Linked DNA regions of Homo sapiens: region 2 is linked to region 1. Evidence: fine-mapped expression QTL. A gene starts in region 1. The other region holds a variant in brackets. All regions are shown on one strand. Distances are from middle to middle.

Evidence for each region. PIP is the estimated chance that this variant, and not a neighbour inherited with it, causes the effect. A credible set is the group of variants that fine-mapping cannot tell apart.
Region 2: its variant is the best candidate, but not a certain one, in a credible set for the expression of HIP1R in caudate (GTEx, PIP 0.68).

The regions. Positions count from the first base shown.
Region 1 is chr12:122,829,511-122,840,893 of GRCh38, forward strand. It overlaps HIP1R (huntingtin interacting protein 1 related), which reads left to right and starts at 5,947. Exons shown (of 32, transcript NM_003959.3): 1 at 5,947-6,133. The coding sequence starts at 6,041. LOC124903040 (a long non-coding RNA gene) reads right to left here and starts at 5,723. Exons shown (of 2, transcript XR_007063501.1): 1 at 5,664-5,723; 2 at 5,045-5,328. RefSeq lists silencers at 178-378, 5,849-6,088, 6,259-6,458 and an enhancer at 5,549-5,598.
Region 2 is chr12:122,804,945-122,816,327 of GRCh38, forward strand. CCDC62 (coiled-coil domain containing 62) reads left to right here. Exons shown (of 13, transcript NM_201435.5): 10 at 1,207-1,351; 11 at 8,326-8,475. Among named protein-coding and RNA genes, the nearest start is that of HIP1R, 25 kb to the right of the region's middle. RefSeq lists a silencer at 7,293-7,468 and an enhancer at 8,654-8,733. The variant G/A (reference allele first, on the strand shown) is at 6,803.

The DNA.
Region 1 (11,383 bases):
CACTGCAACCTCCATCTCCCAGATTCAAGAGATTCTTCTGCCTCCCGAATAGCTGGGATTACAGGCACCTGCCACCATGCCAGGCTAATTTTTGTATTTTTAGTAGAGACGGGGTTTCACCATGTTGGCCAGGCTGGTCTCGAACTCCTGACCTCAGGTGATCCGCCCACCTCAGCCTCCCAAAGTGCTGGGGTTACAGGTGTGAGCCCCCGCGCCCGGCCAACAGATATTTAAAAACAGAAATAGAAATACCCCCAAAGAAAAAAAGTTCTGAATTAAGATAAAACATAAACACTAAAAGCAGCTTTACCCCAAAAGTGCCAAGAGAATGCGTCTAGAACTTCTTGGCTGTGTGGGATAAGGTTGGCTCCATACCTTCCAGGAAGGAGACTGAAGACTGAATCCTTGTTATGGTCTGGCAAACTGATCCTGGAGTTTTCTCCTGTGGCTTTGTGTGGTTTGACACCTGTAGCTGGGGTGGTGGGTTTGCAGTGTTGTACTTTTGTTTCTCTTGAGCCATTTGATGATGATTTTGTTAGGACACATTGCAGGAAAGTTCATTATTCTAGGCCTTCAACAGAATAATCTTAGCAACCTCCAGTGTGATAGAGAACAGAGTGAACAGGATCAAAATAAGAAACCAGACACATTCATCAAGACTGCAGCTGACAAGGAGGTTTAAAAACCAGAATGGGGCCAGGTGCAGTGGCCCACGCGTGTAATCCCAGCACTTAGAGAGGCCAAAGCTCGCACATCATTTGAGATCAGGAGTTCGAGACCAGCCTGGCCAACATGGCGAAACACCTCTCTACTAAAAATACAAAAATTAGCTGGGCGTGGTGGTGGGTGCCTGTAATCCCAGCTACTCAGGAGGCTGAGGCACAAGAATCACTTCAACCTGGGAGGCAGAGGTTGCAGTGTGCTGAGATTGAGCCATGCCTCCAGCCTGGGCAACAGAGCCAGACTCTGTCTCAAACAAACAAACAAACAAACAAAAAACACCCAGAATGGTCTTTGAGAGAAGTTGATTGAATGAAAAGTGTACATGAATCAGTTCTTTAAAGGATGATGTCTGGGTTCTCAGCCAGATGCATGCTTAAGAAACCCAACCACAACAACAACAAAAAGAAACCCAACAAAAAATCAAAGAATTTTGAGCACACAGTAGGTGCTTTGCTGGCCACTGGAGACACAACAATGAGCAAAGCAGACAATCTAGTCGTAGAAACACACTAATCTAAGAATCCCATACATAGTTCACAAGAGACTGGTTAGTGCTACAAAAGAAAGCTTTGAGATATGATGACAGCTTATAATAGGGACTCAGGTGAAGGGTGGAGTGTTAAGAGAATGCTTCCTTAAAGAAGTGACATCTGAGCCAAGAGTTAAAGACAAGTGGATGCTAAGTAGGGCGAACGGGAAGCAGAAGAGAATTCCAGGCAGTAGGAACAGCATGTGCAAAGGCTCTGAGGTGGGAGGGAACATGACGCATCTGGGACCTGATGGGCCAGGATGGTGCAAGATGAAGCCAGGGACAGAGGCTGGGGCCAGATCATGCATACGAGTCGATGAGTCAGTGTGGGTGTGGTAGCATACCATGTTTTAGTGGGCCAGATGATGTAAACTCTCCTGTGCATCTTGGATTTTCCTTAAAACGAGGTCTTATTTGTATTCCAATTGCTTTGCTTTTGTAATAGGGGTGAGCAGGAATTCAACAGCCCTCGAGATACACCAAAACAGAACCCTGATTCTGATGGCATGAAGAATCTCAGGCCGGGAGCAGTGGCTCCTGCCTGTAATGCCAGCACTTTGGGAGGCTAAGGTGGGAGGATTGCTTGAGTCCAGGAGTTCAAGACCAGTCTGGGCAACGTGGTGAGACCCCCGTCTCTACAAAAAATTTAAAAATTAGCCAGGCATGGTGGTGCACACCTGTGGTCCCAGCTATTCTGGAGGCTGAGGTGGGAGGATCATTTGAGCCCAGGAGGTTGAGGCTGCAATGAGCCATAATCCAGCCACTGCACTCCAGCAGGGGTAACAGAGCAAGCAAGACCCCGTATCCCCCCCGCCAAAAAAAAAGCCAGTCAGTGACAGGGACAATAGTAGACCAGGCCTCCTGCCTGAAGATGTTAGAGAGATGAACCAGAAAAATTAAGAGTGGGGAAGTTTGGGCCAGGCACAGTGGCTCACGCCTGTAATCCCAACACTTTGGGAGGTCGAGGCAGGTGGATCACCTGAGGTTGGGAGTTCAAGACCAGCTTGACCAACATGGTGAAACCCTGTCTCTACAAAAAATACAAAAATTAGCCAGGCTGTGGTGGCGCACGCCTGTAATCTCAGCTACTCAGGAGGCTGAGGCAGGAGAATTGCTGGAACCCAGGAAGCGAAGGTTGCTGTGAGCTGAGATCATGCCACTGCACTCCAGCCTGGGTGACAGAGGGCAACCCTGTCTCAAAAACAAAAACAAACAAACAAAAGATTGGGGAAGTTTGTATCCTTATGTCCTCAGTGATACTCTTTCGTGAGATCAGCTGTATGTTGAAGTATACCAAATGAGGTATTTGTTTACTCACTCTTTCAGCCCTTCATTTGACATACATATTGAACATTGCTATGTGCCAGGTGCCCTGCTAGGCACTGAGTACATAAAACTGAGTAATACAGGGTGGCCCTCTAATAGCTCAAAATCTTACCTACAAGCACATAAAGTACAATCCCTTAGAGATGTGTTAGGAGAGTGCTCTCAGGTCCTAAACAGCAAGCCTGAGGTAGTATAGTACTGAAAGTCATAGACCACAAAATGTAGTCCAAATGGCATGGGTGTTGCGGGCACTGGCCTTGAAATCAGGCACATCTGGGTCTGGATCCCGAATGCAGCGTTTACCAGTTGTGTGAACCTGGGCTAAACTCTCTGAACCTGAGCTTGTTTGTTGGTCTGTAAAAAATACCATCAAGAGGCCAGGTGCAGTGGCTTCGGCCTGTAATCCCAGTACTTTCAAGGTGGGCGAATTCACTTGAGCCCGGGAATTTGAGACCAGCCTGGACAACTTAGCAAGACTCTGTCTCTACAAAAAAACTTTAAAAATTAGCTGGGCATGGCCAGGCGCAGTGGCTCATGCCTGTAATCCCAGGACTTTGGGAAGCCGAGGTGGGTAGATCACGAGGTCAAGAGATCGAGACCATCCTGGCCAACATGGTGAAACTCTGTCTCTACTAAAAATACAAAAATTAGCTGGGCGTGGTGGCGGGCGCCTGTAGTCCCAGCTACTTGGGAGGCTGAGGCAGGAGAATTGCTTGAACCCGGGAGGCAGAGGTTGCAGTGAGCCAAGATCGTGCCACTGCACTCCAGCCTGGTGGCAGAGTGAGACTCCATCTCAAAAAAAAAAAAAAATTAGCTGGGCATGATAGTGCATCCCTCCAGTTCCAGCTACTTAGAAGGCTGAGGTGGGAGGATCACTTGAGCCCAGGAGGCAGAAATTGCAGTGAGCTATGATTATGCCACTGCATTCCGGCCTGGGTAACGAAGCCAGACCCTGTCTCAAAAAAAATAAATAAATAAAAATAAAGTTGTTGATGCTTTATTTTTTATTTATTTATTTTGAGAGAAGGTTTCACTCTGTTGTCTAGGCTGGAGTGCAGTGGCATGATCTCAGCTTACTGCAACCTCTGCCTTGCAGGCCTAAGTGATCCTCCCACCTCAGCCTCCTGGGTAGCTGGGACTACAGGCACGCCATCACGGCCAGCTAAGTTTTTCGTATTTTTTGGTAGAGATGGGGTTTCACCATGTTGCCCAGAATGGTTTCGAACTCCTGAGCTCAAGTGATCCACCTGCCTCAGCCTCCCAAAGTGCTCGGAATACAGGCGTGAGCCACTGTGCCGAGCCTCATCAACAACTTTAAAGAAGAATAAGTGAGATACTGTTTAACAGATGCTGAGCCTGGTGCCCGGCACAGTAATAGGCTCTGTGATTATTTAAAAAGCCAGTTGCTAATGGGAAGTCTCTGTGGCAGATGTGCTAGACCTACAGGGGCTGTTGCCTGGTTGAAAAGGGATGCTGTATATGCGTGAAGGGTCACAGGAGAACCACTTTTGTTCCGTGTGGAAAAAGGAGTGTGAGAAACAGCTGGAGTACCGCAAAAAGCCCCTTTACTGTGGTCTTTATTAGAGCACAGCTATCAACTAAGTTGACTAAGTTACATATGAAGGGTTTAGCCCAGTGCCTGCCAAATAATAAGCATTCAGTACATATCAGCTATTGTGATTCTACCGTTATTCTGATAAAGAAGCTTTTTAGTGATTGGAATTAGAGAAAACAGGATTAATTTCTCCTTTTGGTGCAGTGACAGGAGAGTCTTGGCAAATGTTATCTTTTGGGGTCAGCTCTAGCTCTTGGGCTGGAGGGTGAGGAATCAGTTAAAGAAAAGGGTCCCTGGCGGGGTGTGGTGGCTCACGCCTGTAATCCCAACACTTTGGGAGGCCGAGGCGGGCGGATCACCTGAGGTCGGGAGTTCGAGACCAGCCTGACCAACACGGAGAAACTCTGTCTCTACTAAAAATACAAAATTAGCCAGGCGTGGTGGCACATGCCTGTAATTCCAGCTATTTGGGAGGCTGAGGCAGGAGAATTGCTTGAACCCAGGAGGCGGAGGTTGCGGTGAGGTGAGATTGTGCCATTGCACTCCAGCCTAGGCAACAAGAGTGAAGCTCGGTTAAAAAAAAAGAAAAGAAAGAAAGAGAAGAAAAGAAAAGAAAGAAAGAAAGAGAAAGAAAGAAGAGAGAGAAAGAGAGAAAAGAAAGAAAAGAAGGAGGAAGGAAAGGAAAGGGAAAGGGAAAGGAAAGGAAAGGAAAGGAAAGGAAAGGGTCTCTGACCTCAGACAGGTTACAGTCTCACTAGGGAGACAAGGGTCAGGATTACGTGGGCGTCATTTTCCTCCTTACAGGCAGGCGGTGCCTCTCCCTTCAAAAGCAAGGGACCTTTATGCATGATTCCACATCTGCATTCCGATAGGAAAGGGAAACAGCAGAAACACAATACCCATCTGAGAGCTACGCTTAGAGAGGACTCTGGGCTTTTATTTATTTTTTTACTTCAGTCTTGTGACCAGTAATTTTAAGGGAAAGCCAATAATAATGTTTTTAAAAAGCCTCACGCCACCCCTGGCGGCATCTCCTCGGTGTACTTTGCTGTTCAGATCCGCCTGCCTTCTGTGCCAGCCTAACAGCGCCCGGCCTCAGCCCCCATTGTCCCTGGAGCTGGCGAGGTGTCCGGTTGCGGAGCCGGCGGCGTCTCTGGAAATGCATCCTGCATCCCCGCATGGATAACAGCTGCAGCTATGTCAGAATTGCACAAAGAGGGGAGAGTGTCATTGTGTGCCTTTTGACACATACATTAAGACCAAAAAGGAAAAAAAGCGTCTATCTGTGCTGCCACCGACCAGACTCATGGAGGCCAGATTTTCTCCAATTAACCAGATCTTGCCCTGGTGCAGACAAGACTTAGTGAGTTCGGAGGAGGGGTGGGGAGAGGGAATTGGCTGGGGTCCCTACCCTGGGTGGAAGGAGGAGGGAGGGGTTCCCCCTCCCCCTTCCCCTACCCTCCCCTCCGGGTTTAGGGAGGGGATTAGAGGTGGGGAGGAGCTGGGGGGGCGTTTGGCCTGTGCCCCAACCTTGTGAGTGAGGTGGGGGTTGGAGGTGTGCGGGGGGCGGGGCGTGTGCCGGGGTCGCCGCGGGATGGGGGGTTGGGGATGTGCGGGGAGAGGCGCGTGTCCCGAGATCGCGGGGGGTGGGGTTGGAGGTGTGCGGGTGGAGGGGCGCGCCCTGGAGTTGGGGGCGGGCGAGGCGTTTGCGGGCGCGGGGGGCGGGTTTGGAGGTGTGCGGGGGAGGGGCGTGCCCTGGAGTTGGGGGCGGGGCGAGGCGGGCTCCTCCCCGGCGGGCGGGCCCGGGCGCGGCGCGGTGGCCTCGCGGTGCCTAGGCTGGGGCTGCCGGACCGTGAGGCTGTGAGTCGCGCGGACGGAGCCGGACAAAAGCGGGCGGCGGCGGCAGGATGAACAGCATCAAGAACGTGCCGGCGCGGGTGCTGAGCCGCAGGCCGGGCCACAGCCTGGAGGCCGAGCGCGAGCAGTTCGACAAGACCCAGGCGAGCGGGCGGCGGGCGGCGGGCGGCGGGCGGCGGCGGGCGGGCGGGCAAGCGGCGTCCCTGACCCCTCACGCGCGAACGGCTGGGGCCCGGGAGGCGCCGGCCAGGGGCGGGGGACGGCGCGGGGGCAGGGCCTGTGTCCGCCCGGGCTCTCCGAGAGCTCCGCTGCCGCCCCCCGCCGGCCTCCGCGGCCCGAGCCGACCGGCGCGCAGGTGAACCGGAAGCCGCGCTCCCCGCTCCCGCCGGGCGCTCGGGCCCAGAGGCGCCGGGGCTGAGGGGGCCGGGGTCAGGGTGTGCGCGGGCCGGGAGCGCCGGAGCTGAGGCGGCGGGGGACGGAGATGGGGCCGGGGTTGGGTGTGCGCGAGCCCAGCGCGCCGGGGGTCGAGGGGGCTGGGGATCCAGGTGCTCCCGGGGCCGGCGCGGCCCGACTGGGGTCCCCGACCTTCCGTGCCGCTCCTTGCCGGCTCCTGCCCCCGTCTCCTACCCCCTGAAACCGATGCCCCCACGGGCAATTTCCTTAAAGGAAATTCCTTAAACTCCCAGCTTCCTTCTCTCGTGAGCGGTTTCCCAGGGCTGCACAGTCTCCTATTATTTGCTGGGTGAAAAGCTTCTCGTATGTCGCCAGACTTGTTTGCCCGAGCGCTGCCCACGTATAAATAGGTGCACACCCCCTCATTAAATACCGGCGCCCGACAGACAGAAACTTCCTGGGGCTCCCTTCCTGCGCCTCCCACGCTTGTAACTCTTCCAGATGATGCCTATCCTGGGAAGGCGTTAGAAATGAAATAAGGGCGCGGGTGTGCGTTTTGTACTTGTGTTTGTGCCGGGGACCCACGATGCAGACGTTGCTGCGTTTCTGGTTTCCTGTTGCTTTTTATTTTACAAACTCTTGAAGTGCTCTCAGGCTTGGGGGATGGGCGGTGGAGGGGGGCATACTTGTTTATTTGCCAAAATAAGTCAACCAAGACTGAAATGGCTGAAAAATTTTACTCTAGAGATAAAGGAAGCCAGAGGACCCCTCCCACTCCTGTCTAAAGCAGGTTGGTGACATTTGCGTTTGTGGCGGCTATTTGCAAGTTCCGTCCCACTTGTCCTTGCAGAGAGCTATGACTTCTGCGGTTGCCTTCACATCTAGTTAGCACACGCACTCTACAACAGCTTTCGTTTTGAAATGAGAGAGAACGCAGGGAGACCTTCTAACCTTTGTGCTTGGGATTGACCCAGAAAGCGATAATAAATCCTGAGGATATCAAGGCTTTAGAAATGCGAAGTGCTGGAACCCAGGTGGCTGCAAATTACCAATTTAGCCTTGTGATCTTCATCACCATCAACTGGTTCAGCCCGGATAGCCCGTCATTTTAAAAAAATTTAAAGTCACCAATACATAATTAATTGTGCCAAGAACTTGTAGATCATAGGGAGAAAACCTGAATTGGCAGACATATCTGGATGTTGTCAGAAACTTTGTTTATTCACTGAGTTTTTTCTCGTGCCTTTGAGGACGTATAAAGAGGTCTGATTGCTACATGGAGGAGATGGGATGTGAAGGACCAACTTCATTGATCTTACTCTTAAATGATAAGAAGTCAAGGGCAACCTTCCTGAGTGTCAAAGAGAGAATCTCTGATACAGGACCACACATTTTAGTGGTTGGTTTGATACACAAGAAGGTGGATTTTTTTTTTTTTTTTTTAAAGACAGAGTCTCTCTCGTTGCCCAGGCTGGAGTGCAATGGCATGATCTCAGCTCGCTGCAACCTCCGCCTCCCGGGTTCAAGTGATTCTCCTGCCTCAGCCTCCCAAGTGGCTGGGACTACAAGCGTGCGCCACCACACCTGGCTAATTTTTGTGTTTGCAGTAGAGAAGGTGTTTCACCATGTTGGACAGGCTGGTCTCGAACTCCTGACCTCAGGCGATCCACCCGCCTCACCTCGGCCTCCCGAGATGTTGGGATTACAGGCACCTCTCCGAAGGTGGATTGTTTTGTTTTGTTTTGCTCTGGTTTTTTCTCAGAGGCTAAGAGGGCCACTAACAATGAATAACTTTGTAATGGGTGAATGTCACAGGTCTTACCTATTCTAGGGCCCCATTTTCTGGAAAGTTGGAGTTTGAGTTCATTGTCTGGGTTTGCTCGTCTTCACAGTGACTTATTGAGGAATGTAAGAATGAGGTTTTGTACGTGGTTAATATTTAATTAGATCGTTCCCAGAAATAATCAGGTGAGCCGCCAGCCAGGTCCCGTGGTGGAAAAGGACCTGGAGAGCTGAGGTTGTTACTTCCATGTCTCCTTCGGGACAGAAAATAGCACATGCAGTCCAGGGACCTGGCTTCCTTTGTAATACGCTGCTTGTCTTGCATTGACCACAGCACTGTGTGCTGTGGCAGGAGCACTAGGCTGGCTTAGAATTTAAATATTCACTAGCCTGCCAGCCTCGCTTTCCTCCCCTGGGCTCCTGGGTCAGGAGGAAGATAATTGCTTTCCTGTGAGCTTTTTTGACAGGACACACCCTGTTTGCAAATATCTGTGGGGTTAGCGCTCAGGAGTGTGAAGAGAGGCGATCATGTGCCTGCTGGGAGCTGGTGCCTGTGATTGTTGCATGGTGTGTGTGTATAATCCCAGGGGAATGTCCAGAAAACCAGTGTATGCTTTTCTTCCCTATGACTTTAGTCCCTTTGGTTAAAAAAAAAAAAAATCCTTTTCAAAATGGAGGTGACAAACTTTTATTGTCTTGTTGCTGTTTTCTGAATACAGAATACTACAAAATACAGCATGCCTGTATTTGGAACCTGAACACTGCCTGTACCATTTAAAAAGAGGGTGTGGTATCATAAAGGCACTAGTAGGTAGATAGACCTAGGCTCTAGCCTGTGTCCCTGGCAAGTTGCTTAACTTGTAAATCTATGTCCTTGTCTGAAAAAAAAACCATACAGATCGTTCCAGCTATCGTATAGGGCTGTTGTAAGGTGTAAGAGAGAGACCGTGTGGCAGCTAGAACCTGTGACTACGTTAATGACTTAGTAAGGCGTTGCAGGTGGAATTAGAGTTTTTCATCAGCTGAGATGGTCCTTGAGATGGGGCGATTCTCCTGGGCTACCAGGTGGGCTCAGTGTAATCACAAAGGTCTTTAAATGTGGACAAGGGAGGCAGGAGAGGAGGTCGGACTGAGTCCATGTGAGAAAGACTCACTGCCTGCTGCTGGGGAGGAGCCACTAGCCAAGGAGTATGGGCATCCTCCACAGCCTGGAAAAGGCGAGGAAATGGATTCTTCCCTAGAGCCTCCAGGAGGAAACACAGCCTTTCTGACACTTTGCTTTTAGTCCTGTGAGACCTGTTTTAGACTTCCGACCTCCAGAACTGCGAGTTTGTGTGATTTGTTATGGCAGCCATAAGGAACTAATACATCCAGTATGTAAACATGAAAGAGCACCTAGGGCATAGAAGGGCCTCAGCAGATACTTGGCCCAACCGTCTTTCTCCCTTCCCTTCCTCGGCTGAAAAGTTTAACATCTAGAGAAGAAAGCATCTTTGAAGCATATCATGAAGAAGGACTCAGTTAGGAGTACTGGAAATGCTAATGGTGAGTCCTGCCTTTTCCTGATCTGTGAACCTTTCTGCTTCACTGGGCCTCAGTTTCCACTGCAGGCCCACAGGATGGAGATCAAGCCCAGAAGATTCCTCTCAGGTTAGGATGAGAGAAACCCTTTACTACACTGCAAGGCCTCTGGCCACTGCTGAGTGAGCCAAGTCTGGCGGGTGAGCATTAACTGTAGACATGAAACTACCCAGGTGTAAGGGGTTCCTGTGGGGCAGGGACTGTCTAGGGCAGCAATATGTGGAAACAGTTCATAGGTCCAATTTTCCAGGTTGGTGACATACATGCTTAGCATCCCCCGTGAAACCAAAATCCTGTCAAGATTAACATTTATTGACAACTGAGGGCTTCTCAGCCCCGGCACACAGTAGAGCAGTGTTGTCCAGGAGGAACCAGAGGCAAGCCACGTGTGTACTTTTAGATTGTCTAGTAACTACTAGAAAAGTCAACAGAAACAGGTGCGATTAACTGTAATAGCATATTTTATTTAACCCAGTATATCCAAAAGCTAGCCCTTTCAACATGTAATTGCCACAAAAATTATGAATAGGAGAATTTACATTCTTTTTCTCCTACTAAATCTTTGAAATAGGTATGCACTGGACACTCACAGCTGATCTCAGTCTGGACTCACCACCTTTCCAATACTCACAGCCCGCACCGGCCAGCGGCTACCGTGCCGGACAATGCAAGTGTTAGAATCACCTGGTGGCTTTTAGAAAAGGGCAACATTTACGTGTATAGGAGTGATTTGCCCGCAGCATGGCATGGGCGTTGAGCTCGTTGTTCCTGGGCATGCGCACTGCTGTCTCGCCCCGTGACATCCTCTGCTCGGTTCCACCCCATCAGCCCACATGGTGATGCCCTCGTGGTGATGCCCGGCAGGCCGCTGACTTCCCGACCCCTGGGCTGCATATTGCCTCCCTGGCAGAGCTATTCCAGAGGCTGTTCTTGGTCCAGGTTGGGGTGGGAAGGGGCCACCCATCCTTGACCTCCCCCTCCCTGTCTCTGATGTGTTTTGATGCCCATGACACATTCCTGAGCGCCGCTTGCTGTCTTACCATTTGGCCTGTTCCTGTAGCTTTGGGGTGTGCCCCAGGAAGGTCCGAGTCATCTTTGTACCCTCTAAGAGGTGGAGAGATGCCAACTGTGGCCACGTGTGGAATGGTAGGGCAGTCAAGAGCAAGCTCCAGGTTCAGCCCCTGGCTCTGTCCCTTCACCACTCTGCCTCAGTTTCCTTATCTACAAAATGGGGGCAATAATACTACACACCTCCTGGAGTGGTTGTGAAGAAATTTACAGGTGTTCATAGTGCCTGGTGTGTAGTGAATGCCGTGTAAGTGTTGGCTGTTATGTTGTGTTCAGAAGAGCAGGCTGGGCTGAAAGAGAGAAACAAGCTCCCTGTTGAGCTCTGCCCGGTGCCCTTAGATTAGCTGTAAGCGGAGGCCTTGTGTGCTGGGGCGGTTGGGGAGAAAAGTGGATCTGCACAGAGGTTGGGGGGACTCAGGCAGGTGGGGACAGCCCTTCCCTGGAAGAGTGAGCCCAGAGGTGCCACATTATGAAGGCTCTCCAGGGTTGGGAGGATATTCTGGGGGACGACAGCCTCAGGAGGTGCAGACAAAGCCAGCAGGAGCCTTGCCTGGCAGAACTGCTCACCC
Region 2 (11,383 bases), 25 kb before region 1:
CACGATCTCGGCTCACTGCAACCTCTGCCTCCCGGGTTCAAGCGATTCTCCTGCCTCAACCTCCAGAGTAGCTGAGATTACAGGCGCGCGCCACCATGCCCGGCTGATTTTTGTATTTTTAGTAGAGATGGAGTTTTACCATGTTGGCCAGGCTGGTCTCAAACTCCTGACCTCAGGTGGTCAGCTCTCCTCGGCCTCCCAAAGTATGGGGATTACAGGCATGAGTCACCGCAACTGGCCGGCTTTTTTTTTTTTTTTTTTTTTTGTGAGAATTAGTCTGTTTTAATTTTTCCCTCCCTTTTAGATGATCCTATCTTTAGAACTTTCATTTCATTGTATTTTTAGGGGGAACATTCTTTGTTCTATAGTTACCTTTACCTAATAATTTTGTCTTAATTCTTTTTTTTTTTTTTTTTTTGAGACAGAGTGTCTCTCTGTCACCAGGCTGGAATGCAGTGGTGCGATCTTGGCTCTCCGCAACCTCCGCCTCCTGGGTTCAAGCAATTCTCCTGCCTCAGCCTCCTGAGTAGCTGGGATTACAGGCACATGCCACCACACCCAGCTCTTTTTTTTTTTTTTTTTTTTTTTGAGGCGGAGTCTTGCTCTGTCGCCCAGGCTGGAGTGCAGTGGCGCGATCTCAGCTCCCTGCAAGCTCTGCCTCCCGGGTTCACGCCATTCTCCTGCCTCAGCCTTCCGAGTAGCTGGGACTACAGGCACCCGCCACCACACCTAGCTAATTTTTTGTATTTTTAGTAGAGACGGGGTTTCACCGTGTTAGGATGGTCTCGATTTCCTGACCTCCTGATCCGCCTGCCTCTGCCTCCCAAAGTGCTGGGATTACAGGTGTGAGCCACCGCTCCCGGCCACATCCAGCTAATTTTTGTGTTTTTAGTAGAGATGGGGTTTCACCATGTTGGCCAGGACAGTCCTGATCTCCTGACCTCGTGATCCACCCAGATCAGCCTCCCAAAGTGCTGGGATTATAGGCATGAGCTACCATGCCCAGCCTTATTTTAATTCTTATTTGCAAAAGGTATGCATTAACTTATAATATTCTATTCCAATCTATAATGTTCTACTCAAACTTGACCTGCTTCAATAACAAAAACACTTATTTGTCCTTTTAAGATACTTTTGAGTATAAGAGTGATCTATGTATGATATTGTTTTAAGATATTTGTTTTTGTTGGGTTTTCTTATTCTTAGTGAGCTAATTGCCATCCAAGATTCCCACTCTTTGGGTTCTTCAAAATCTGCCTTGAGAGAAGATGAGACGGAGTCCTCTTCCAATAAAAAGAACTCACCTACGAGTTTGTTAATCTACAAAGATGCACCAGCATTCAATGAAAAGGTTCGTATTTTGCTTAGACATCCCCAGCTTACTCAAGCCAGGCCTCTCACCAGCTTTTAATGCTTCTCTAGCAACCACTGTTAGCTTGCTTATTTTGGCTATTCCTCCGTTTTTTTTTTTTTTTTTTTAATTCTAGGATTTTAAGATGCTTTTAAGGCAATCCTTTTATTTATTTTATTATTTTGTGTTTTGTTCTGTTTCTTTGAGACAGGATACTCAGTCACCCAGGCTGTAGTGCAGTGGTGCAATCGTGGCTCACTGCAGCCTCAACCTACTGGGCTCAAGTGATCCTCCTGCCTCAGCCTTCCAAGTAGCTGCAACTACAGGCACATGCCACCACGCCCAGCTAATTTTCTCATTTTTTTGTAGAGACAGGGTCTCAATTTGTTGCCCAGTCTGGTCTTGAACACTTGGGCTCAAGTGATCTTCTTGCCTTGGCCTCCCAAAGTGTGCTGGGATTATAAGTGTGAATCACCGTGCTGGGACTATTTTTTTCTTTCGAGAAAAATTGTATTTTTTTTTTTTTTGGCAACTTGATATATGTTGGTTGTAAAAAAAAAAAGAAAGAAAAAAGAAAAAGAAAAACAAACCACAAGAACAATACAGAAATATAGATATCACCTAACTGCTTGGTCTCAGCTGCCCCTTCCTCCAAATACACAACCCCTGGCAGTGTCTAGAGAGACCCAGGTGACACGTTGGTGGGCTTGCTTACAGATTTCTCTATCTGCAGAGACATGCATACAGACTAATGTGTGGTAAATGGGATTTCATTATATGAGAAAATGTGTGGCAAGGTACAGTGCCTCGTGCCTGTAATTCCAACACTCTTGGGGGCCAAAGTGGAAGAATTGCTTAAGCCCAGGAATTCAGGATCAGCATGGGCAACATAGCAAGACCCTGCCTCTATTTTTTGTTTCAATAAAATTTTAAAAACATAAAAGAGGAAAACATCGCCAGGCGCAGTGGCTCACGCCTGTAATCCCAGCACTTTGGAAGGCCGGGGTGGGCAGATAACCTGAGGTCAGGAGTTCGAGACCAGCCTGACCAACATGGTGAAACCCCATCTCTACTAAAATAAAAAAATTAGCCAGGTGTAGTGGCGGGTGCCTGTAATCTCAGCTACTTGGGAGGCTGAGGCGGGAGAATCGCTTGAAACCAGGAGGCAGAGTTTGCAGTGAGCCGAGATTGCACCATTGCACTCCAGCCTGGCAACAGAGTGAGACTCTGTCTCAAAAAAAAAAAAAAAAAAAGGTAAACATCTGACATCTATGATTTACCAAGATACCAGGGTGGCAAATTGAAATCTTCATCCCACTAATGGGATTACAGGCACAAGGCACTGTACCTGGCCAGACATTTTCTTGTATAATAAAATCCCATTTACCACACATTAGTCTGTATGTGACAGACTAATAGTGACACATTCATTACACCCAAACCCCTTTGGAATTCTTCCTCTGCCCTGTGCGTCCCTCCCTATTCCCAGACAATCACTCACTAATCTGTCTTCTGTAACCCAGATTAGTTTGCCTTTTCTAGAATTTTATATAAATGCATTCAAACTTTTGTGTCCCTCTTGTTTCTTTCACTCAGTGTAATTATTTTGAGATTAACTTATGTGACTGTGTATATAAATAATTCCTTTTTGTTGCTGACAAGTATCCTATTGTGTGGATATATTAGGTTGATGCAAAAGTAAGTATGGTCTTTGTCATTAAAAGTAATGGTAGGCCATTAAAAGTAATCCCAACACTTTGGGAGGCCGAGGCAGGCGGATCACTTGAGGTCAGGCGTTCGAGACCAGCCTGGCCAGCATGGTGAAATCCCCTGTCTACTAAAAATACAAAAATGAGCCTGGTGTGCTGGTGTGTGCCTGTAATCCCAGCTACTCAGGATGCTGAGGCAGAAGAATTGCTTAAACCCGGGAGGCAGGGGTTGCAGTGAACCAAGATCGTGCTACTGGACTCCAGCCTGGGTGACAGAGCGAGATTCAATCTCAAAAAAAAAGTAATGGCAAAAACCGCAATTACTTTTGCACCAACCTATTACCACAGTGATTTAGCCATTCATTTGTCAGTGGACATTTGGGTTGTTTCTGGTGTGCTAGATAATACAAATAAAGCTGCTTGCATATTCATGTATCATAAGTCTTTGTATAGACACATTTTTTTTTCGTTTATCTAGGAATGGAATGCTAGCTAGCTCATATGGTAGGTGTATATTTAACCTTTTTTTTTCTTTTTTTAGAGACAGGGTCTCACTCTGTCGCCCAAGCTGGAGTGCAGTGATGCCATCCTGGCTTACTGCAATCTCAAACTCCTGGGCTCAAGTAATCCTCCCACTGCAGCCTCCCAATTAGCTGGGACTGTAGGCATGAACCATTATGCCCAGCTCATTTTTACATTTGTTGTGGAGATGTGGTCTTGTTATGTTGCCCAGGGTGGTCTCAAACTCCTTACCTCAAGCAATCCTCCTGCCTCAGCCTCCCAAAGTGCTGGGGTATATTTAACATTTTAAGGAACTGCAAGATGTTTTCCAAAGTGGTTATACCAGTTACATTCCCACCATCAGTGTGGTGCTGATGCTCCGGTCCCAGCTGCTCCAGATTCCAGTCAATACTTGCAATGGTCAATTTTTAAATTCCAGACATTCTAATAGGTATGAAGAGGTATCTCAGTGTGGTTTTAACTTTCATTCCCCTAATGACTAACAATGTTGTGCACCTTTTCACACGCTAAACCACCATCTATTTATAGCTTCGATTTCAACTGATAGAGAAGTTCTAGCCAGTTATTCAATCCCAAAGAGACGCTATTCTTTATGTCTGTGTAGAATATCCCTTCTTTAATTACTTCTCCAGATTTACCTCCTCTCTGCACTATGCGAACAAAACACTTATCAGGCCATCAGGCCGGGCGTGGTGGCTCATGCCTGTAATCCCAGCACTTTGGGAGGCTGAGGTGGGCAGATCACCTGAGGTCAGGAGTTGAAGACCAGCCTGGCCAACATGGTGAAACCCCATCTCTACTAAAAATACAAAAATTAGCCAGGTGTTGTAGCTCGTGCCTGTGGTCCCAGCCACTCAAGAGGTTGACGTGGAAGAATCACTTGAGCCCGGGAGGCGGAGGCTGCAGCAAGCTGAGATTGTGCCATTGCACTTCAGCCTGGGCGACAGAGCCAGACCCTGTCTTAAAAAATAATAATAGGCTGGGCGTGGTGGCTCATGCCTGTAATCCCAGCACTTTGGGAGGCTGAGGCGGGTGGATCACCTGAGGTCAGAAGTTCAAGACCAGCCTGGTCAACATGGTGAAACACCATCTGGCTATGGCGAGGTGCCAATGACTTTCTTCACAGAATTGGAAAAAAATACTTTAAAGTTCATATAGAACCAAAAAAGAGCTCGCATTGTCAAGTCAATCCTAAGCCAAAAGAACAAAGCTAGAGGCATCACGCTACCTGACTTCAAACTATACTACAAGGCTACAGTAACCAAAACAGCATGGTACTGGTACCAAAACAGAGATATAGACCAATGGAACAGAACAGAGCCCTCAGAAATAATACCACACATCTACAACTATCTGATCTTTGACAAACCTGACAAAAACAAGAAATGGGGAAAGGATTCCCTATTTAACAAATGGTGCTGGGAAAACTGGCTAGCCATATGCTGAAAGCTGAAACTGGATCCCTTCCTTACACCTTATATAAAAATTAATTCAAGATGGATTAAAGACTTAAATGTTAGACCTAAAACCATAAAAACCCTAGAAGAAAACCTAGGCAATACCATTCAGGACATAGGCATGGGCAAGGACTTCATGTCTAAAACACCAAAAGCAATGGCAACAAAAGCCAAAATCGGCAAATGGGTTCTAATTAAACTAAAGAGCTTCTGCACAGCAAAAGAAACTACCATCAGAGTGAACAGGCAACCTACAGAATGGGAGAAAATTTTTGCAATCTATTCATCTGACAAAAGGCTAATATCCAGAATCTACAATGAACTCCAACAAATTTACAAGAAAAAAACAAACAACCCCATCAACAAATGGGCGAAGGATATGAATAGACACTTCTCAAAAGAAGACATTTATGCAGCCAACAGACACATGAAAAAATGCTCATCATCACTGGTCATCAGAGAAATGCAAATCAAAACCACAATGAGATACCATCTCACACCAGTTAGAATGGCGATCATTAAAAAGTCAGGAAACAGCAGGTGCTGGAGAGGATGTGGAGAAATAGAAACACTTTTACACTGTTGGTGGGACTGTAAACCAGTTCAACCATTGTGGAAGACAGTGTGGCGATTACTCAGGGATCTAGAACTAGAAATACCATTTGACCCAGCCATCCCATTACTGGGTATATACCCAAAGGATTATAAATCATGCTGCTATAAAGACACGTGCACACGTATGTTTATTGTGGCACTATTCACAATAGCAAAGACCTGGAACCAACCCAAATGTCCAAAAATGATAGACTGGATTAAGAAAATGTGGCACATATACACCATGGAATACTATGCAGCCATAAAAAATGATGAGTTCGTGTCCTTTGTAGGGACATGGATGAAGCTGGAAACCATCATTCTCAGCAAACTATCACAAGGACAAAAAACCAAACACTGCATGTTCTCACTCATAGGTGGGAATTGAACAATGAGAACACTTGGACACAGGAAGGGGGACATCACACACTGGGGCCTGTTGTGGGGTGGGGGGAGGGGGGAGGGATAGCATTAAGAGATATACCTAATGTAAATGATGAGTTAATGGGTGCAGCACACCAACATGGCACATGTATACATATGTAACAAACCTGCACGTTATGCACATGTACCCTAGAACCTAAAGTATAATAATAAAAAATAAATAAATAAATAAAAAGAAATTAAGTTTCCTTTTTTTTTTTTTTTTTTCAGACGGAGTTTCACTCTTGTTGCCCAGGCTGGAGTGCAATGGCACGATCTCGGCTCACCGCAACCTCCGCCTCCCAGGTTCAAGCGATTCTCCTGCCTCAGCCTCCCTAGTAGCTGGGATTACAGGCATGTGCCACCACGCCCGGCTAATTTTGTATTTTTAGTAGAGACGGGGTTTCTCCATGTTGGTCAGGCTGGTCTCAAACTCCCAACCTCAGGTGATCTGCTCGCCTCAGCCTCCCAAAGTGCTGGGATTACAGGCGTGAGCCACCGTGCCCGGCTGAAATTAAGTTTTCTTAAAAAAAAAAAAAAATCAGGTGGTGGCTCATGCCTGTACTCGCAGCACTTTTGGAGGCTAAGGAAGGGGGATCACCTAAGGTCAGGAGATCGAGACCATCCTGACCAACATGGTGAAACCCCGTCTCTACGAAAAATACAAAAATTAGCTGGGCGTGGTGGCACATGCCTGTAGTCCCAGCTACTCGGGAGGCTGAAAGGCAGGAGAATTGCTTGAACCC[G/A]GGAGTTGGAGGTTGCAGTGAGCTGAGATCACGCCACTGCACTCCAGCCTGGCAACAGAGTGAGACTCCATCTGCAAAAAAAAAAAAAAAAAAAAAAAAAAAAAAAATTCAGTCTAGGCCCCTTTAAGAGCAATTGGCAGTGACTAATTTTCATGCCAAACTTCACATCCCAAAGTTGAAATTTAATAGGAATAAACGAAGGCACATACCCACATATTTTTCAAGGCTTATAAGCCTTTAATGTTGTCCTATTTTGCAAGTATTTTGACATGCTAAATACAGCATTGACAAGTTGGTTGAGGAGAGTTAACCAATGCCTAGGATTCTTTTATCGCATGGGTGTTACTTCATTAGCTGTAGTAAGTTCTGTTTAAGTCAAATTATTTAACTGAGTAGGTTCTAAGAAATAAAGGGGGCTGGGTGCAGTGGCTCACGCCTGTAATCCTAGCACTGTGGGAGTTCGAGGCGGATGGATCACTGGAGGTCAGAAGTTCAAGACCAGCCTGGCCAACATGGTGAAACCCTGTCTCTACTAAAAATACAAAATTAGCCAGGTGTGGTGGCGGGCAACTGTAGCCGCATCTACTCGGGAGGCTGAGGCAGGAGAATCACTTGAACCCGGGAGGTGGAGGTTGCAGTGAGCTGAGGTTACACTATTGCACTCCAGCCTAGGCAACAAGAGCAAAACTCCGTCTCAAAAAAAAAAAAAAGAGGCCGGGTGCGGTGGCTCACACTTGTAATCCCAGCACTTTGGGAGGCTGAGGCAGGCAGATCACGAGGTCAGGAGATTGAGACCATTCTGGCTAACGTGGTGAAACCCCGTCTCTACTAAAAAATACAAAAAAAAATTAGCCAGGCATGGTGGTGGGTGCCTGTAGTCCCAGCTACTTGGGAGGCTGAGGTGGGTGGAGCTTGAAGTGAGCCGAGATGATGCCACTGCACTCCAGCCTGGGTGACAGAGCGAGACTCCGTCTCAAAAAAAAAAAAAAAGAAAGAGAGAGAGAGGGAGGGAGAGAGAGAGAGAGAGAGAGAGAAAGAAAGAAAGAAAGAAAGAAAGAAAGAAAGAAAGAAAGAAAGAAAGAAAAGGAATGAATTTAGTTATTCTTATTCTACTATTTGATGTCCAGCTTTGCTTTGTAACACCTAAAGACAAAGAAATATTCACAGGTGATCGGGTGTAGTGGCTCACGCCTATAACCCCAGCACTTTGGGAGGCCGAGGCAGGAGGGTAACTTGAGGCCAGGAGTTCAAGACCAGCCTGGGCAACATAGTGAGATCCCACCTCTACCAAAAAAAAAATTGCTCGGTGTGGTTGCACACACCTATGGTCCCAGCTTTTCAGGAGGCTGAGGCAGGAGGATCACTCGAGCCCAGGAGCTTGAGGCAATCAGCTGTGATTGTGCCACTGCACTTCAGCCTGGGCGTCAGAGCAAGAGAAAGAAAAAAGAAAACAATATTCCTAGGTAGTTAGCATTTGTGTTTGTAAACCTAAGCATTTAAAGGTGCCTCTTAATTTCCTGTAGGCTTCAATTGTGTTACCCTCCCAGGATGATTTCTCGCCCACGAGCAAGCTCCAGCGTTTGCTGGCGGAATCTCGTCAGATGGTGACGGACCTGGAGCTGAGCACACTGCTGCCCATCAGCCATGAGAATCTCACTGGCAGTGCCACAAATGTATGCGTTTCATTTTCTCTTGACTATATTTGTCACATCCAAACACACCACTGAACACCAGTGTGCAAATATCACCGGCAGGGCGGCCTTTCTGTTAGAGGGAGAGTTTCTGTGTCTCTAGGGAGGAAAGGGAACATGCTTGTTTTAAGGAGGAAAAAGTTACACTTAGATGTCACTGGACCCAAACTTCCTCTTTCTAATGATCTGGGGCATATGAAGATAAATTCTTGGGGACTTTTTTCTTGGAGGGGGCGGGTACAGAGTTTTGCTCTTGTCGCCCAGGCTGAGGTGCAGTGGCACGATCTCAGCTCATTGCAACCTCCACCTCCCGGGTTCAAGTGATTCTCCTGCCTCAGCCTCCCAAGTAACTGGGACTAAAGGCCTACTCTACCATGCCCGGCTAATTTTTATATTTTTAGTAGAGACAGGGTTTCACCATGTTGGCCAGGCTGGTCTCAAACTCCTGATCTCCAGTGATCCACCCACCTTGGCCTCCCAAAGTGCTAGGATTACAGGCGTGAGCCACCACGGCCAGCTGGAAATGTTTTAAAAAACCAAATTTTATTATAGAAAGTTTCAAGGCCGGGCGTGGTGGCTCATGCCTGTAATCCCAGCACTTTGGGAGGCCGAGGCGGGTGGATTACCTGAGGTCAGGAGTTCAAGACCAGCCTGACTAACATGGAGAAACCCCGTCTCTACTAAAAATACAAAATTAGCCGGACATAGTGGCACATGCCTGTAATCCCAGCTACTCGGGAGGCTGAGACAGGAGAATTGCTTGAACCCCGGAGGTGGAGGTTATGGTAAGCCGAGATTGTGCCATTGCACTCCAGCCTTGGCAATGAGCAAAGCTCCACCTCAAAAAAAAAAAAAAAAAAAAAAGAGAGAGAGAAAGAAAGAAAGAAAATTTCAAATATGCACTGAAGTGGAAAGAATGGCACGGTCACTCACCTTTGACCACCATCGATTTTATCTTACCCCATCCATACACGTTTTCTTTGGAAGCATTTTAGCTCAGCATCATATCATGTCACTCATAAATATTTCATGATCATGATGTCTCTCTAACAGATATGGACTTTTAATTTTTTTTTTTTTTTTTTTGAGACTGAGTTTTGCTCTTGTTGCCCAGGCTGGGGTGCAATGGCACGATCTCAGCTCACTGCAATTCTCTGCCTCCTGGGTTCAAGCAATTCTCCTGTTTCAGCCTCCCAAGTAGCTGAGATTACAGGCACCTGCCACCATGCCTCACTAATTTTTGCATTTTTATTAGAGACGGGGTTTCACCATGTTGACCAGGCTGGTCTCGAACTCCTGACCTCAAGTGATCCACCTGCCTTGGCCTCCCAAAGTGTTGGGATTACAAGCATGAGCCACCCTGCCCGGCCTAATTTTAATTTTGTGTATTTATTTATTTTTGAGACAGCATCTTCCTCTGTTGCCCAGGCTGGAGTGCAGTAGCTATTCGCAGGCGTGATCACAGCTCACTGCAGCCTCAAATTCCTGGGCTCAAGCAATCCTCCCACCTCAGTCTCCCAAGTAGCTGGGACCACAGGCACGCACTGCCATGCCCACTCTGTTTGCCAGGCTGCTTGAACTCCCGGCCTCAAGTAATCCTCCTGCCTCAGCCTCCCAAAGTGTTGGGACTATCAGCATGAGCCACCATGCTCAGCTTATTTATTTGTTTTTTAGAGACAGTCTTGCTCTGTCACCCAGGCTGGAATGCAGGGCCAACTTGAACCTCCAACTCCCAGGCTCAAGTGATCTTCCCACCTCAGCCTCCTGAGTAGCTGGGATTACACGTACACGAAACCACACCCAGCTGATGTTTTTATTTTTTGTAGAAACAGGGTCCCACAATGTTGCCCAGGCTGGTCTCAAACTCTTGGGTTCAAGCAATCCTCCTGCCTCAGCCTCCCAAAGTGCTGGGATTATAGGCGTGAGCCGCTGTGCCTGGCCTGGCTTTTCTTAACAGTGTCTTTTAAAAAGCGAAATTTAAAATTTTGATTACTTCCAACTTAACAGGTTTTTTTTTTTCTTTTTTGAGACGGAGTCTCGCTCTGTCGCCCAGGCCTTGGTGCCAGTGGCGCGATCTCGGCTCACTGCAAGCTCCGCCTCCCGGGTTCACGCCATTCTCCTGCCTCAGCCTCCCGAGTAGCTGGGACTACAGGCGCCCGCCACCACACCCGGCTAATTTTTTGCATTTTTTGGTAGAGACGGGCTTTCACCGTGTTAGCCAGGATGGTCTCCATCTCCTGACCTTGTGATCCGCCCGCCTCAGCCTCCCAAAATGCTGGGATTACAGACGTGAGCCACCACACCCAGCCTATTCTAGTAGTTTTTTTGTAGATTCCTTAGGATTTTCTACACAATCATGTCATTCATGAATAGAGACAGTTTTATTCCTTTTTCCAATATTTATGCCTTATTTCATTTTCTTCCCTTACTGCTCTGGCTAGGACCTCCAGATGAGTGTTGAATAGAAGCAGGGGAGCAAACATCTTTGCCTTATTTCACGAAATGCTCTCTGATGGCAATTCTTGCTTAGTCCTTCAGATTGGTATTTTGTTAGATTCAGAGTTCCCTGGAGCAGTTTCTATGTGCCGCGAATAGATCCAAAACTAGAACATTAATCATTTTAGAATCAAGATGCTCACTGCCATGAGCCTAAACAGGTAGTTGCAGAGATTACCTTAAAGCAGAACAGGATCCAAAACTAGAAATTTTTCAAAGTATACCATGTGTGCCATATAAACTTTTCAAAGTGGAAACCGTGATGGACTCTGGTGTTTCCTAGGAAGATTTCTTCTTCACAAGCTGTCTCTGAGGCATTAGTGAAGCGTTGCATTTATATTGGGGCAGAGGAAGGTTTTTAATGACAAAACTATTTTGGTGCTTAGCTATCCCT